Linked DNA regions of Homo sapiens. The protein of the gene in region 3 interacts with the protein of the main gene of each other region in a biochemical or structural test. Each region holds a gene or a part of one and is shown on either strand. Other genes may lie near its edges. The genes, in order: ORC5, MCMBP, MCM5, ORC3 and CDC5L.

Region 1 (3,779 bases), on a different chromosome or scaffold from region 3:
TTATAAGTGTGAAATTCCTATTAAGATTTTTAACATTCAAATATGCTTAGATTTCTTTTCTTTTTTTTTTTTTTTTAATAGTGACAGGGTCTCGCTATGTTGCCCAGGCTGGTCTGGAACTCCTGACCCAAAGCCTTGGGATTACAGACATGATCCACCATGCCTGGCTGATTTCTTTATAAGAATTCTTTATAGGAAAATACAAATTTGCTTTGAATTTCCATAAGAAAGAAATGGCAAGCTGAAAGAAATAATTGAAGTGAGTTTAATGAAGGGACAGTTTTATAATGGAAATTTTATGGGAATCACTAAGGGATGATGGTACACCAGGGCCTTTACCACCTCCAGGCCTGAAGGGACCATAGAAAGGAGCTGTTATTGGAACCAAACAAGAGGTGTAGCCTTAGAAGAGGGGCTGTCCAACTTGATCTTTGGTAGAAGAGTATCCACTGCCAAGCTAGGGCCACTGAGGGGTCATGGTGGGAGTCAAGGAAATCAATATCCAAACTTCTCTCCCACCATTCTCCCTTAGTCTCCTGCTGGTTCTTTCCATTGGCTTCTCCATCCAGAGACAGAAAATAAGAGAGTCCAGGTGATGTAATTCTGTAGCTGTCAGGCTCTTGGGGCATGGGGTGGGTTTGGTGGGATATAGATTTAGAAAGGCAAATGGAGACTATCCAGCACAGCCATTATTGTGTTTGTGTGTTTTCTTCTTTACTTACAGTGTTTTGGTTTTCGTTTTCAGCTCCCACATGTGTTTGTGAATTGTGTTGAATGCTTTACATTGAGGCTGCTTTTGGAACAAATTTTAAACAAATTGAATCATCTTAGTTCTTCAGAGGATGGATGTTCTACTGAAATAACCTGTGAAACATTTAATGACTTTGTTCGCTTGTTTAAACAAGTAACCACAGCTGAAAATCTTAAAGATCAGACTGTATATATTGTAAGTAATTTCATTTGATTAGATCATCTCTTATCTTGAAAACTGATAATTTATTAGATCAATTTTCATATATTTGTTTTGAGTCTCATTATGTACAGTGCTCTGTGCCAGGTGCTTTTAGTATACAGAAATGTATTAAATATATTCCTTATCCAAGGGAAGCTTCATTTAATAGAAAAGGTATGACACATACATACGACTACATGCAGAATGTGATAAGTGATTGTCACCAGATGCAAAATATTGACTGTGTGTGTCCAATACAGCTTCATGAGGTATTAGCATTTGAGACAGACCTAAATGAATCAGAGTATTCTAGGAAGAAATTGAAGTAGAGGAATTTCAGATAGAATTATATAAGTAAAGGCATGCAGCTGAAAATGGAGGCCAGAGAGTACCAAATAGTCTAGTTTTAGTGGGTTATAAAGTATGACGGGAGAAAAAGAAGACTGGAAGATAGGTTGGGCAGATTGTGGAAGGTCTAGAAAACTATACTAAAGCACTTCATTTAATTTCTTAGGGAGTGGATAGGAGATAGTAAAGACTTTAGAGCAACAAATATGCCTGGTTACTCTGAAGACATGTTAAAATGATCATCTTTGGAATTGGATAAGAACTACCCAAGACTGGATAGTTTATAAAGGAAAGAGATTTAATTGACTTACAGTTCAGCGTGGCTGGGGAGGCCTCAGGAAACTTATAATCAGCAGAAGGCAAAGGGGAAGCAAGGCACCTGCTTCACAAAGTAGAAGGAAGGAGAAGCTCCTTATAAAATCGTCAGATCAGATGTGAGCTCACTATCACAAGAACAGCATGGGGGAACCACCCCCAAGATTCATTTACCTCCACCTGGTCTCTCCCTTGACACATGGAGATTATGGAGATTACAAGTTAAGATGAGATTTGGATGGGGACACAAAGCCTGACCACACCATTCCACACTTGGCCTCTCCCAAATCTCATGTCGGTTTCACATTTCAAAGTCAACTGTGGCTTCCCAATAGTCCCCCAAAGTCTTAACTCATTCCAGCTTAATTAGCCCAAAAGTCCAAGTCCAAAGTCTCATCTGAGATAAGGCAAGTCCCTTCCACCTATGAGCCTATAAAATCAAAAGTAAGTTAGTTACTTTCTAGATACAATGGAGATACAGGCAATGGGTAAATACAGCCTTTTCAAATGGGAGAAATTGGCCCAAACAAAGGGGCTGTAGGCCCCAAGAAAGTCTGCAATCCAATAAGGCAGTCATTAAACTTTAAAGTTCCAAAATGATCTCCTTTGACTCCATGCCTCACATCCAGCCCACTGATGCAAGAGTGGGCTCCCACAGCCTCATGCAGCTCGACCTCTGTGGCTCCATGCCTCACATCCAGCCCACTGATGCAAGAGTGGGCTCCCATGGCCTTGTGCAGCTCCACCTCTGTGGCTTTGCGGGGTACAGTTGCCCTCTCTGCTGTTTTCACAGGCTGGCGTTGAGTATCTGTGGCTTTTCCATGCACACAGTGCAAGCTGTTGAATCTGCCATTCTGGGGTCTGGAGGATGGTGGCCCTCTTCTCATAGCTCCACTAGGCAGTGCCCAGTGGGGACTCTGTAGGGGGGGTCCAACCCCACATTCCCCTTCTGTACTGCCCTAGTAGAGGTTCTCCATGAGGGCCCTGCACCTACAGCCAACTTCTGCCTGGACATCCAGGCATTTCTGTACATCCTCTGAAATCTAGGCAGAGGTTCCCAAACGTTAATTCTTGATTGCTGTGCACCTGCAGGCCCCACATGTAAGCCGCCAAGGCTTGGGGCTTGCACTCTCTGAAGCAACAGCCTGAGCTATACGCTGGCCCCTTTTAGCCATGAGTGGGGATGCAGGACACCAAGTTCCGAGACTGCACAAAGCAGCAAGGCCCTGGCCCACAAAACCATTTTTCCCTCTTAGGCCTCTGGGCCTGTAATGGGATGGGCTGCCACGTGAAGACCTTGGAGACATTTTCCCCGTTGTCTTGGCTGTTAACATTTGGCTCCTTGTTACTTATGCACATTTCTGCAGCTGGCTTGAATTTCTCCCCAGAAAATGGGTTTTTTCTTTTCTACCTCATGGTCTGGCCACAGATTTTCCAAAGTTTTATGCTCTGCTTCCCTTTTAAATGTAAGTTCCAGTTTTAGATAATCTCTTTGTGAATGCATATGACTGAATGCTTTCAGAATCAGCCAGGTCACCTGTTGAATGCTTTGCTGCTTAGAAATTTCTTCCACCAGATACCCTAAATCATCTTTCTCAAGTTCAAAGTTCCACAGATCTCTAGGGCAGGGGCAAAATGCCACCCTTCTCTTTGCTAGAGCATAGCAAGAGTCACTTTTATTCCCTGTCCCCAATTAGTTCCTCATGTCCATCTATGACCACCTCAGTCTGTACTTCATTGTCCATATCACTATCAACATTTTGGTCAAAGCCATCTAACAAGTCTCTAGGAAGTTGCAAACTTTCCCATTTCTTCCTGTCTTCTGAGCCCTCCATCCTGTTCCAACCTCTGCCTATTACTCAGTTGCTATAACAGACTACCAAGGACTGGGTAATTTATAAAGAAAAGACATTTATTTCTCACAGTTGTGGAGGTTAGGAAGTCAAAGGTTGAGGTCCCTGCATCTGGCAAGGGCTTTCTTGCTGCCTCCTCTCATGATGAAAGTAGAAGTACAAGAGAGGATGAGAGTGAGAGCAAGAGGTGGCAGAAGTCCCTTTTATAATAAAGCCATTCTCTCAATAACCCACTCCCTTGATAACAATATTAATTCATTCATGAGGACAGAGCCCTTATGACTTAATCATCTTTTATGCAGCTTCTCTTC
Region 2 (3,231 bases), on a different chromosome or scaffold from region 3:
TTTTTGAGACAGGGTCTCGCTGTGTCATCCAGGCTAGAGTGCAGTGTTGTGATCATGGCTCACTGCAGCCTCAACCCCCCCAGGTTCAAGCGATCCTCCCACTTCAGCCTCCTGAGTAGTTGGGACCACAGGCATGTGCCACTGTGCCCAGCTAATTCTTTGTTTTTTGGGTTTTTTTGTTTTGTTTGGGTGTGTGTGTGTGTTTGTGTGTGTGCAGATAGGGGATCTCTTTATGTTGCCCAGGCTAGTCTCGAACTCCTGGGTTCAAGTGATCCTCTCTCCTTAGCCTCCCGAAATTCTGGAATTAGAGGTGTGAGCTACCTCGCCCAGCCCTCTTTTAAGTTTTTGTTTATCTGGGAATGTCTTAATTTCTCCTTAAGGCTAGTTTTGCTGGATGTAGAATTCTTGGTTTATAGTCTTTGTCTCATCATTTCGAATATGTCCTCCCACCACTTTCTGGCCTCTGGTTTCTACTGAGAAGCCAACTAGTTTCTGATAAGGATCCTTTGTACACACTGAGTCATTTTTCTGTCACTGCTTTCAAGATTTTGTGGCTTTTGACAGTTTCGATTATGATGTGTCTATGTGTGGATCTCTGAGTTTATCCTACATGGAGTTTGTTGAGCTTCTTGGAGGTGCAGAATAATTCATATTTTGGGGAAGTTTTCAACAAGTTTGGGAAGGTTTTGGCCATGTTTCTTTCTGCCTCATTTCTCTCTGCTCTCCTTCTGACACTACCACTGTGTATCTGATGTTGCATTTAATGGTATCCCACAGGTCTTCAAGGCTCTGTTCATTTTCCCTCATTCTTCTTTTTTTGTTCTGTTTCTTAGACTAATCTCAGTGAACTTATCTTCAAATTTAGTGATTTTCTTCTGCCTGATCAAATCTGAGCACCTCTAGAGAATTTTTACTATATTTTTCAACTCCAGAATTTTTATTTCCTTCTTCTAAAAAATTATTTCTCTCTTTTTATTGATACTCTCTATTTGGTGATTCTCATATTTTCCTGAAGTTCTTTTTATGTGGTTTCCTTTATTTCTTTGAATGTTTAAAATAGCCAATTTAGAGTCTTTTTGTCTAATGTTTGAGTTTCCTCTGGGACAGTTTTCTACTGACTCCCTTATCCCCAAAGTGTGAGCCATACCTTCTGGTTTCTTTGTACTTTTTTGTTGAAAACCAGACATTTTATTTGGTCAGTGGGGTCTCACTGTATCACCCAGGCTGGAATAGTAAGTAGCACAGCCACAGCTCACTGCAGCCTTAAACTGCTGGGCTCAAGTGATCCTCTTGCCTCAGTAGCTGGGACCATAGGTGTGCACCACCATGCCCAACTAAAGTTTTGTTTTTTTGTTTTTTCTTTTCTTTTTTTTTCTTTCTTTTTTTTTTTGTAGTGATGAGGTCTTGCTTTATTGCCTAGGCTGGTCAACTCCTGGCTTCAAGTAGTCCTCCCACCTTGGCCTCCCAATGTGTTGGGATTACAGGTGTAAGCCACCACATCTAGCCACAACCAGACATTTTAAATTATATAATATGGCAACTCTGCTTTGGAAGTTACTCTGGAAATTAAACCTCCCTAGGGTTTATTGTTGTTGCTGTTTGTTACTGTTGGTAGGTTGTTTAGTAACTTTTTTGACTAATTCTATAAAGTCTGTATCTTTGTCACATGTGGGCACTGAAGTCTCTGCTCTGTTAGTTTTGTGGTTAATGATTGGAAAGAAATTTCCTTAAATGCTGGGTAGTAGTCTCCCAGTCTACGGGTGAATAATAATCATAAATAAAAATAAAAGTTGGGGCAAGCCCTCAGTTCAACACTTAGCCATGCAATTTACAAGCCTTAGCCTTCATTTCCTGCTCGCACAGAGCCTCCAGGTCATGCAGAGGTGGGAGCTATGGTCTCTGAGCATGTCTGCAGCCTTCTGAGTTCCTAGGAGTTACATACTTAAGGTTTTCAGAGCCCTCTACAGACATGTCATTTCCCAGCTAGCTTTTCCATTGAAGGGTTTGGGTTAGTCTGTCTGCCGCAGCTGTTACCCAGTGTCTCAGGTAGCTAAGGTGATTGGTAATTTCTTCCGATTGTTTTTGATAAATGCCCTGGGGAAAGAGGTGGTTCATAGTAGACAGGCTTCCAGTCAGGTTAAATAAAGACAACCTTGCAAATGGGTCCTTCCAGGGAGCCACCAGACAGGTGGTCAGATGACAGTTCTCCGGGAATGGCACTTGGAAGGAGCCCTAGCCCTGTTCTCTCTCCGGTGGCTGCCAGGCTGTTGATTTTTGAAGCTACTAATTATCGCCTGGAGGGGAAGGGGTTGGAATTTAGGAGTAGGACATGTTAAAATGCTGCCAGGCTCAACATTCTTACCAATAATCACCTGGTTTTCTTGCATAAATGCTCTCTGGATTGCTGCAAGTATGGTTTTATTTCTAGTTTTTAAAAAGCTGATTTTGATCAGTGTTAACAGTAGAGACAGTTTTCTGCGGTCCCTTCTCTGCCATTTTCACTAACATCACTCTTCCTTTGTGGAAAAGCATTGTTTCCTATGCCAGTTGCTGATTTATATGTTTGCTTGACCTTAAATGAATCTGAGTTTCATTATTTTATTTTCATCAGCAGCATTATGTATGTATATGCTTTGGTACTTTCACCCATATTGCCTCCTTTGTCTAAGAGGCTGACATGCACCTTACTACATCAGTCAAGGAACCATGTTAATTTTCTTTTCCTTACAAAAATGCACATCATTTACATTTACTCTTTTGATAAAGGCAGTTGAAGATGACTTTGTGGAAATGCGGAAGAACGACCCTCAGAGCATCACTGCTGATGATCTTCACCAGCTGCTCGTGGTGGCTCGGTAAGTGGCGCACGTCCATTATTGCTGTTTCGGTAAGCTTGTGTATATGTCTTCTGAGTTATTCAGCAGTAACTGAGGCAGAATTCTAAAAACGGAAATGAACTTTTCCTTTTAAAAACGCTGTATGAAAGGGCTCATTGAGGGGGAATCGAGTTTGGCTGGTGATCTCTTCAGTGGAACAGGCATGCTGCTTGTTCTCTAAGCTTCAAAGAGTGAGCCACTTTCCAATTCTGACTCTTCAACGATTTCTTTTTAGAAGCCTAACTTGGCTGTTGACTTGTGTGTAACTACCATACGGTCTTGTCTCCTAACGTGCTCTGTGTTTTCACAAAGTATTCCTAGGTCTTAAAAAAAATTTAAAACTTACTATCCCAGC
Region 3 (3,779 bases):
CATGGTGGCTGTGGTGTGGGCAGATTCAGGGGTGCAGGCACACCTCAGCCAGTGTTGGTTTCCTCTTCTTTGCACCCTTCCTGCCCCACCCTGCTATGTGCCCACTCCAGGGATGAACTCAAGCGGCATTACAACCTGGGGGAGTACTGGATTGAGGTGGAGATGGAGGATCTGGCCAGCTTTGATGAGGACCTGGCCGACTACTTGTACAAGCAGCCAGCCGAGCACCTGCAGCTGGTGAGTGGGACCCCATCCCTGAGCTTCCCAGGGCTGCTCTGCCCCAGTTACTAATAGCCTGTGCCCTTCCCTTTCTCCAGCTGGAGGAAGCTGCCAAGGAGGTAGCTGATGAGGTGACCCGGCCCCGGCCTTCTGGGGAGGAGGTGCTCCAGGACATCCAGGTCATGCTCAAGTCGGACGCCAGCCCTTCCAGCATTCGTAGCCTGAAGGTGGGTCGGAGGGCAGTGGCTGCTGCATGGTGCAGAGGGCTTTGGATGCAGCCAGACCTGAGTGCTAGCTGTGTGGCCTTGAGTGAGGCACTTGACCTTTCTGAACCTGTCTCCTCCTGGAGACAAAAGGATCGTTTGTTGTTTTTTGCTTTTTGTTATGAAAAATTACACACCCAAAAGCAGAGAGTAGTATAATGAATCCCATAAAGCTTCACCCAGATTTAATAATTAACATTTTGTGTTGTTTCCTATTTTGTCCTTTTTCTTTTTTGCTAAAGAATTTTAAAGTAAATTCATGCACAGTGGCTCATGCCTCTAATCTTAGCACTTTGGGAGGCCGAGGGAGGAAGATTGCTTGATACCGGGAGTTTGAGACCCTGGCTCTCCAAAAAACAAAACAAAAAAAAAACAAAAAAAACAAAGCTAGGTATGCTGGCATATGCCTATAGTCCAGGCTACTTGGAAGGCTGAAGTGGGAGGATCAAGGGGCCTAGGAATTTGAGGTTACAGTGAGCTCTGATTGTGCCTCTCAGCACTTTAGCCTGGGTGACAGAGCAAGACCCTGTCTCTAAAAATAAAAAATAAATTACAGACATGACACTTTATCCCGAAAAAAAAAAGTTTTCTTACATAGTCTCATTAGCACCTCAACTGAAACATCAAAGATCTCTTAGTATCATTGAATATACAGTCTAGATTCAGATTGACCAAATTACCTCACATGACTCTTACAGCTCGTGTGTCTCAGCCAGGACCAGGCATTGTACTGGATTGTTGTTTAAATCTCTTTTAATCCAGGACAGCTTCCTTTACTCTGGGTGTAAGTTCTTTCACAGATACATTATTGATTTGCTAAAGAAGCAGGAGCCATTATCCTGTAGAATGTGCTGCCTTTTAGATTTATCTGAAGGCCTCCTTGGGGTGGTTACAACATACCCCTTCCCCCCCGTGATTTTTGGAAGCTGGAAGTTAGATGCAAAGGCCTGACTGTGTTTCGATTTCACATACCGGGCAAGAACGCTTATGGGTGGTATTGGATCCCTCATTGCATCCCTCCATCCACTATGCTGAGACTGACCAGGTGCTAGGTTGAGGTGGTGATGGTCACTTTATTGTAATGATGCAGGCATGGAGTCTTGAATTCCGCCTCCCCAGCCTCGCTTCTGCTTCCCACAGCCTCTTCCTGCTTTCTTTGAGAGCCCCAGCAAAACTTCTGCTCATGTCTGGTTCTCTCGTTCAGCCGGAGGAGGGCATTGAGAAACGGAGACAAGGTGGAGAGAGATTGTCCCAGTCCTGTACACTAGTGGCTCAGGAGCTTTGTGAAGGGCAAGGGCTGGCCATAGGAAGGAGTGGATCGGCTGAGAATTTATGTTTTACTTTTTATTATGGATAATTCAAACATTAGAATATAAAGAGAATCGTATAACGAATCCTCTTGTACTCATCACCCAGCTTAATAATTAGCAACTAGAGGCCAATTTTTTTTTTTTTTTTTTTTTGAGATGGAGTTTTTGCTCTTGTTGCCCAGGCTGGAGTGCAGTGGCACGATCTCAGCTCACTGCAACTTCCGCCTCATGGGTTCAAGTGATTCTCCTGCCTCAGCCCCCCAAGTGGTTGGAATTACAGGCACACACCACCACGCCCGGCTAATTTTTAGTAGAGATGGGGTTTCACCATGTTGGCCAGGCTGGTCTCGAACTCCTGACCTCAGGTGATCCATAGATGCCAAATCTTGTTTCATCTGTGGCCCTGGAGTTCTTTTGAAACAAGTCCCATACATCATATAATTTGATCTGGAACTATTTCTCCATGTATCTCTAAAAGATGAATCTCTTTTTTTTTGAGACGGAGTTTGACTCTGTCGCCCAGGATGGAGTGCAGTGGCATGATCTCAGCTCACTGTAACCCCTGCTTCCCCGGTTCAAGCAATTCTCCGGCCTCAGCCTCCCGAGTAGCTGGGATTACAGGCATATGCCATCACACCTGGCTAATTTTTGTATTTTTAGTAGAGACGGGGATTCACCATGTTGGCCAGGCTGGTCTCGAACTCCCGATCTCAAGTGATCCGTCCGCCTCGGCCTTCCAAAGTGTCGGTATTACAGGCGTGATCCACTGCACCCAGCCTTTGAAGAGTCATTTTTAAAGGCATAGCTACAATAACATCACACTTAAAAATTAACATTACGGCCGGGCGCGGTGGCTCATGCCTGTAATCCCAGCATTTTGGGAGGCCGAGGCCAGTGAATTGCCTGAGGTCAAGAGTTCGAGACCAGCCTGGCCAACATAGTGAAACCCCGTCTCTACTAAAAATACAAAAAGTTAGCTGGACATGGTGGCAGTTACCTGTAATCCCAGCTACTTGGGAGGCTGAGGCAGGAGAATCGCTTGAACCCGGGAGGCGGAGGTTGCAGTAAGCCGAGATCCTGCCATTGCACTCCAGCCTTGGCGACACAGCAAGACTCTGTCTCAAAAAAAAAAAAAGAAAAAAGAAAAAATATTACTGCCTTATTGTCCGGTGTGGGAATAGTCATTAAGATGGGGAAACTGAGGCTCAAAGAGAAGTGACCCAGACAGAAGACCACACAGCAGGTTTTGACAGAACTTGAACTAGAATGTGGGCCCCTGCCTCCCAGGTTTGTTCTGTGTTGTACTCTACAGGTCCAAGGATGTCGCCATCAGAGCTGGGGTCAGGTCTCTCTCCTGGCACCTGCCACTTTGTAGTGAAATGTGCTTAGTGTATCTCTTGCCCTGCCACCTCCCCCCCCAATTGTGCTGCGAGGTCTTTAAAAGCAGGAGCTGTGCCTGAGGCTCCTCTGAACCCCAGGGTCCAGATAGCCTGGCACTGGGTGGATGCTCTGGAAGCATTTTTTGAGCGGAACAGAAGAGCTGTGGCCCTCCCTGCAGCTCTGTGCCCACCTCCTCCAGGCTCCTGCCCAGGATATTTACTGGCATATCTCAGATGCGTCCTGGCTCCCCTTAACCAACAAGCTTCCCGATGGCTCTATTACAGTCGGACATGATGTCACACCTGGTGAAGATCCCTGGCATCATCATCGCGGCCTCTGCGGTCCGTGCCAAGGCCACCCGCATCTCTATCCAGTGCCGCAGCTGCCGCAACACCCTCACCAACATTGCCATGCGCCCTGGCCTCGAGGGCTATGCCCTGCCCAGGAAGTGCAACACGTGAGTCTGTGGCCCAGAGGGACTGTGGGAGGTGACCTGAGTGAAGATCAGAAAGGATGAGAACAAGTAGCAAGCACTGCCTGCAGCTGCTTCTAGAGATCCACTGGGATGGGCTGGGCAGGGGTGTGCCCTTAGGATTGGCACAGATCT
Region 4 (2,688 bases), on a different chromosome or scaffold from region 3:
AAGCCAAACAGTTTGGGACTTTTTTTTTTGACACGGAGTCTCACTCTGTCACCCAGGCTGGAGTGCAGTGGCCGATCTCAGTTCACTGCAACCTCCGCCTCCCGGGTTCGAGCAATTCCCCTGCCTCAGGCTCCCGAGTAGCTGGGACTACAGGCATGTGCCACCACACCTGGCTAATTTTTTGTATTTCTTAGGAGAGATGGGGTTTCACCTTGTTGGCCAGGATGGTCTCGATCTCCTGCCCTTGTGATCCACCCGCCTTGGCCTCTCAAAGTGCTGGGATTACAGGTGTGAGCCACCACGCCTGGCCTTTTTTTTTTTTCTTTAAAGTTGTAAGACTACAGGAAATGGAGAGGCAGAGACAGTTTTGGAACCTATGTAGTCACCAGGAGAAACAACCTGTAAGATATTCATGTTACTTACTGCCTACTACACTAAAGTGAGGAATGCCAATGCAGGGAATTGGGAGAGGAGGAATGAGGATTGCTAAAGCAACTGCAAATAATTTATACTCCTGGATAACGGAATTTATTACATTTACATACTCTAAGTTCAAGAATGATTTACTCACAATTTAGTAATGACTTTGGAAAGTACAGTAAAATGTGTGAGCAGTTTTAGTTACATTATTATTTGTTGGAGTCTAAAGTACTCCACAGGTGTTTTGATACATGCCTGTTTGGGGTTAGCAATGTACTTTTCTGGTTAAACATCAATGGGGGTTACACATTTATCTTCTCAACAAAACAGGCTCCTCTAATATATGTAAATATGACTGGTCACCTTTTTCTCTTAAGCTAAATGTGATAGTTCTGGCTTTGCTTATTTGCTTTCTAGCAGCCTCCCCATGTTAGTCTTGCCACATGGTCAGTCTTCTGTTTGGTAGGTTTTATAAATCCTAAAAGTTCTAGTTCAGAAACAGCTCTAATAAACCGAGCACTGGAGGCTTTAATTAAGGAAACTGGCCGTGCTGTATTTTTGACAAAAAGGGATTAAAATCTCAATGTTAAAATACTAGTTGGTAAAATGAAGTAGATAGTTCAGATATAAACTCCTAAATTAAACTATAACTGTTACTGGAAAACATTAATTAGAATCCACTATCAATAAAACATAAATGGAAAAGTACTTAATGCTTCCTAAATCTAATGTTCTACATAGTATGGAAATTGCTCCCCGCCCCCACTTCTAAACGTACATTAGAAAAATAGAGAATTCAGACCAGGTCAGTGGCTCACACCTGTAATCCCAGCACTTTGGGAGGCCGAGGCAGGCAGATCACCTAAGGTCAGGAGTTCAAGACCAGCCTGGCCAACATGGTGAAATCCCATCTCCCCTAAAAATACAAAAATTAGCCAGGCATGGTGGCAGGCGCCTGTAATCCCAGCTATTTGGGAAGCTGAGGCAGGAGAATCGCTTGAACCCGGGAGGTGGAGGTTGCGGTGAGCCGAGATCGTGCCACTGCACTCCAGCTTGGGCAACAATAGCAAAACTCTGTCTCAAAAAAAAAAAAAAAAAAAAGAATTAGGCCGGGTGAGGTGGCTCACACCTATAATCCTAGCACTTTGGGAGGCCAAGGCGGGCGGATCACAAGGTCAGGAGTTCGAGACCAGCCTGGCCAACATGGTGAAACCCCGTCTCTACTAAAAATACAAAAATTAGCTGGGCTTGGTGGCAGGCACCTGTAATCCCAGCTACTTGGGAGGCTGAGGCAGGAGAATTGCTTGAACCCAGGAGGCGGACGTTGCAGTCAGCCAAGATCGCACTACTGCACTCCAGCTTGGGCGATAGACGAGACTCCGTCTCAAAAACAAACAAACAAACAAAAAAAACAAAAACCAAAAAAAGAGAATTCAATAATGGCAGTTTCATTTTTGGTAAATTTTAAAATATAATCTTGATATAAATTTGATACCAAAAGTTTTAGGTTTGGTCTCATTTTGGATTAAATTCAAAATAAAGATTCAGAAATTTCAGTTATTCTAGCACCATATGGTTAATATTAACAAGTAATACGGTTGTTTGGAGTACGCCTTTATAAATATCTAGTGTAGACCTGGAGAAATTATAAACTTATATTTTATGTGTAGTTGGACATTGTAGAAATGGTTTTAAAAGGATACTGGATAATTTCATTCATTTCTTCTGAGGTTGCAGAATTTGCATCCATTTTTTCAGCAGCTGTCACAACTGTTGCAAAAGCCTTTTGAATAGACAAGACAGAAGAAAATAAAAATGTCTACAGTTGCCAAACATCTTTTACTATACTTCTTTTAATGGCTGTTGATAGCTGGCACATATTCTTCATTATATCAAATTTAAGATTGTCAAAACTACACTGATGATCACTTTAAACCACTTATATATTAAAAGATAAAGTAATGGTTCCTGAATAATCTTGTTTCAGAGAACTAAGAGTATGCAGAGAAAAGAAACGAAGCTAGTCAAAGGTAAAAGAACAAGAAAGCCCTGTTTCCTCTACTAATCTTACTCCAGGAAAATATCTATTTTTCTTGGAAGCAGCCAATTATGGATATTTTTTAATGGTGACAAGACATCTGTAAGGCCTTTAATAGAGTTAAGATCTTTGTAATACTATTCTGAAGACAGAAAGAATAGTTGTTTATTTTAAAGAATAACAACAGTTGTTTATTGCCTTGCCAAGTATTCCTTATACTTCCTGATTGC
Region 5 (3,779 bases), on a different chromosome or scaffold from region 3:
CCTTTCCTTATATTAACTGTCATTGCTGTGTTTGCTCTTGCTGTCTTATTTTACACACAAAAGTCTGGCAAGGTTCTAAACTCAATTCTGCCTCCAAAGCAGAATAAAATACATGGACTTGGTTACAATTCAGAAGTCTTTTCCACTTATTTCTGACCTGTAACTGCATTCTGATTCTATTTATTTAACAAACTCCTTGCACACACACATCCTCTACCACATTCTACATAAAATCTGAGATGGTTCTATTAGTTTTAAATGAGTATCTTAAGGATTTTCACTTAAGTGCTAAGTTTCAAATATTAATCATGAGTAATGAATGGCTCAAAGACTACCTCCAATATAAACCTCAGGGCATTTTTTTTTTTTAATCCATTCAGGAGACACCAGCCACGACAAAGCTGGACTTCATCTTGCTTGATAGGCAGTGATAGGGCCATAATTTAGATTCACGGTTCCAAAGTTCATGGCAGCAAAAATCAAACACACTGGCAGCCATGGCATACAGTGCTTACAGAGAAGGGCTTATCTCCTGAACCTAAGAGTGGAAAGGATAATTTAAGTATAGCATTTAGTTTATACAATATAACTGGAGTTCCTTCCCCACAACAAACTTTGAATAATGTTTATAATTTAGCAATCAACTGAAATGAAAGAATTACCACAATTGAAATAAAATATTTATGTATTTCAAACCAATAGAACTGTGTCTTCAAAAACTAAAACAAGCTAAAAGAAACCTAGTTCTGAATTAGTGATGGATACAAATAAAATGGGGGTTTGTTTATTCAAGTCTTTGAGCTGCTTTTCTTTTTTTAAAAGATTTCATGAACTTTCATTTGAAATAAGCACAGTTTACCAAATTAAAGGACTTGATTAAGTATTCTTTAAAAGTAACTAGCTGGGTAAACAATAAAGTAAGTTATCCAAGAGTCAAGAAAAGAAAAATGACTTCAGACTGCTTTATGAATATTCTCCAAAATCACCAATCCTTCAACAAAAATAGTTCAACGGAAGATTTCAGTTCCTGGTACTGAACTGAACAAAGAGAACCACATGTTTTTAATGGTTGCTCATAAACGACCCAAATAAATCTCCAAAAGAACAGGAGTGGCTCTTTCTGTATTTTTCCCTTTAAAATTCATAAGACCAATTCAACACAGAAATAAAAATTACTGTACTTTATGGCACCACTCACTGTGTGACACATTTATTTGCTGTCATGAAAGTTAGTACCTCAACAAAGTAAATGAGATTTAGGGAGAAAAAAATTTTCTACCATTTAAAAAAGCACAAAATGTTCTTGCCATTTGCGGCAAAAAGAGTTTACCCACCTCAAATGAGAAGATTTTCATACTAAGTAAGAAACCTAAGTATTTATATATAAATAATACAAAGAAGCTTTCCAAATAGCTTTTCAATCAGTGATGATGCTGATATTAGATCACAATTACACTGCTAACTACCATTTATAAGAAATGAAGCCTACACAACAAAAAAATGTAACTTACAATTTAACCACTGATGTTCTATTTTCCCTGGCTTTAACACTGAACCACAACACAGAGCAACAGCACACCCTGCTGGAAGTTGGTAATACAAATAATTAGCAGCACTGAACTAAGATTTTACCCAAGATGAGAATTACTTCAGAACCAGTCATTTCTCACTGAGAAAAAAAGAGGTTCACAGGCATTAACCATCAGCTACCTATATATATGTGATCTTAATGGTTAAATTAAAACTCAGAATAACTCAAATTAAAAGATACTGCTTTTTCCTGCTCATTTCCTCAGCCCCATACAGCCCCAACCACCCCAAGTGATTTTACTACTTCTGGCTTTAACCCTAAATAAAAATATTTTCAAATGCACTTTTTGTAAAGAGAAACTGGTAATCACATAAAAGAGGAAACCAAGACGATTTTCTGTATATGACTGCCTGAAGTACCCCTTCTCTCCCATCCCACCTTGGCCTTAGAAATGCCCCTAAAGATTACCATTAAAAATGCACAAGGCATAGCCGGGCATGGTGGCTCACGCCTGTAATCCCAGCACTTTGGGAGGCTGAGATGGGTGGATCACGAGGTCAAGAGATCAAGACCATCCTGGCCAACATGGTGAAACTCTGTCTCTACTAAAAATACAAAAATTAACTGGGCGTGGTGGGGCGTGCCTGTAGTCCCAGCTACTAGGGAGGCTGAGGCAGGAGAATCGCTTGAAACCAGGAGGTAGAGGTTGGAGTGAGCCAAGATTGCACCACTGCACTGCAGCCTGGCAACAGACTGAGACTAGGTCTCAAAAAAAAAAAAAAAGAATGCACAAGGCAGCCTGGTGGTCTGTGAACCACAATTTACATGCCATTGGCAAAATGCCTACACAGATTCTGGAATTCAAAATATGCAAACTATATTAAGAAACCACATGTCCTGAAACTGCATCTAGTATGTTTTCAACATTTTCACAGACATGAAAAATCATGGAAGCCACTAACTAGATAATCCAGCTCTGCCCTCCCTAACTCAAACTCACAGTAATCCAAGGATGAACAGAATTGTATTTAAGTTTTGTAAATGTACTCTCTTTGTTATAAAAAGAAAACTCCTCGTTACTGCTGAGATTCCTCTTCAGAGAAAACAGGCTATGCTAGCAATGACCTGCCTGTTCTGAGTGACTAGTATTGGCTTCTTGGCTCCTTGCTCCCACATCTAAAGGTTCTGATTGACCTCTGGTCAACTTGCAGGGCACTCTTTAGTCATGAAGGCCAACAATTCTTTAAAAAAAAAACAAAAACAAAACAAACAAAAAAAAACAATGAACAAGGCCAAGAAGATCCAACACTTAAGTGTAGTTTTCTCCAACAACTAAAAAGGCAATAAGCACCTCAGGTGTGTTTTTCTGACATTGTCTCCAGTGGCATTATTTAGTTCATTATCTCAATCAAAGTACATTTAAAATTAAAATTTTAAAAGGATACCAACCTCGAGCCTCTTTTCAAGTGATTCAATTCTGTCCTTTTTACTAGCCAGATTGGCCCGTGTGTAGCGGCTCTGCCCAGGAAGATATAAAACTTGACTGTAGCATTCTTCCCACACCTGGTTATAAGCTTCACTTGAGAGCTCTCCATGGCTCATTCCTTGTTTAACCACTTCCATCTCCTGCACCAAAACATCCTGGGCCTGTTTACAATAATAATTTCAATAAGTTTAAGTACTACAAACACTTGCCATATCCAGAGAGCTTTAGAAGACTAATTTTTTCCCTCATGCCTTGAGTCAAATCCAAGATGTGGTTGGTTGTTTTTTGGAAGGGTGGATAACAATACCTAGGAAAAATAGCTTAAGAAGCCTTTGAGTCAATGCAGACTGCTTTTTAAAAATCAAGCATCCATGTTTCCTCAAAAGTATAAACATCCTTTGCTTTCACTCACTATAACAGCAGCTATCATTTCTCAGGTACCTATTGTGTGTGTGAGAAACTAGGTTTAAAAGTTTTACCTACATTATATCCAAAGATCATAATCACCTTACAAATTAGCCAATATTAACCTCATTTAAAAGCTAATGAAATTTGGCCAGGCACGGTGGCTCCCTCCTATGATCCCAGCACTTCGGGAGGCTGAGGTGGGCGGATAACGAGGCCAGGAGTTCAAGACTAGCCTGGTTAACACAGCAAAACCTCGTGTCTACTAAAAATGTAAAAATTAGTAGGACGTAGTGGCACATGCCTGTAATCCTAGCTACTCAGGAGGCTGAGGCACAAGAATCCCTTGAACCCAGG

The links.
Region 1: the proteins of MCM5 (region 3) and ORC5 form a complex in vitro, tested with the Homo sapiens proteins (one large-scale study listed by BioGRID and IntAct).
Region 2: the proteins of MCM5 (region 3) and MCMBP form a complex in vitro, tested with the Homo sapiens proteins (2 studies listed by BioGRID).
Region 4: the proteins of MCM5 (region 3) and ORC3 interact on a protein array, tested with the Homo sapiens proteins (one large-scale study listed by IntAct).
Region 5: the proteins of MCM5 (region 3) and CDC5L form a complex in vitro, tested with the Homo sapiens proteins (one large-scale study listed by BioGRID).

What each region holds. Positions count from the first base shown.
Region 1 is NC_000007.14:104,197,925-104,201,703, reverse strand, and holds part of ORC5 (origin recognition complex subunit 5), read left to right. Parts: intron 1-745; coding exon 746-946; intron 947-3,779. UniProt on the Homo sapiens protein: Component of the origin recognition complex (ORC) that binds origins of replication. DNA-binding is ATP-dependent. The specific DNA sequences that define origins of replication have not been identified yet.
Region 2 is NC_000010.11:119,831,636-119,834,866, reverse strand, and holds part of MCMBP (mini-chromosome maintenance complex-binding protein), read left to right. Parts: intron 1-2,766; coding exon 2,767-2,855; intron 2,856-3,231. UniProt on the Homo sapiens protein: Associated component of the MCM complex that acts as a regulator of DNA replication.
Region 3 is NC_000022.11:35,403,097-35,406,875, forward strand, and holds part of MCM5 (DNA replication licensing factor MCM5), read left to right. Parts: intron 1-110; coding exon 111-237; intron 238-317; coding exon 318-446; intron 447-3,456; coding exon 3,457-3,629; intron 3,630-3,779. UniProt on the Homo sapiens protein: Acts as a component of the MCM2-7 complex (MCM complex) which is the replicative helicase essential for 'once per cell cycle' DNA replication initiation and elongation in eukaryotic cells.
Region 4 is NC_000006.12:87,665,269-87,667,956, reverse strand, and holds the end of ORC3 (origin recognition complex subunit 3), read right to left. Parts: intron 2,204-2,688; coding exon 2,124-2,203; intron 947-2,123; coding exon of another isoform or gene 940-946; coding exon 834-939; 3' UTR 506-833; downstream 1-505. UniProt on the Homo sapiens protein: Component of the origin recognition complex (ORC) that binds origins of replication. DNA-binding is ATP-dependent. The specific DNA sequences that define origins of replication have not been identified yet.
Region 5 is NC_000006.12:44,429,112-44,432,890, reverse strand, and holds part of CDC5L (cell division cycle 5-like protein), read right to left. Parts: intron 3,179-3,779; coding exon 2,981-3,178; intron 1-2,980.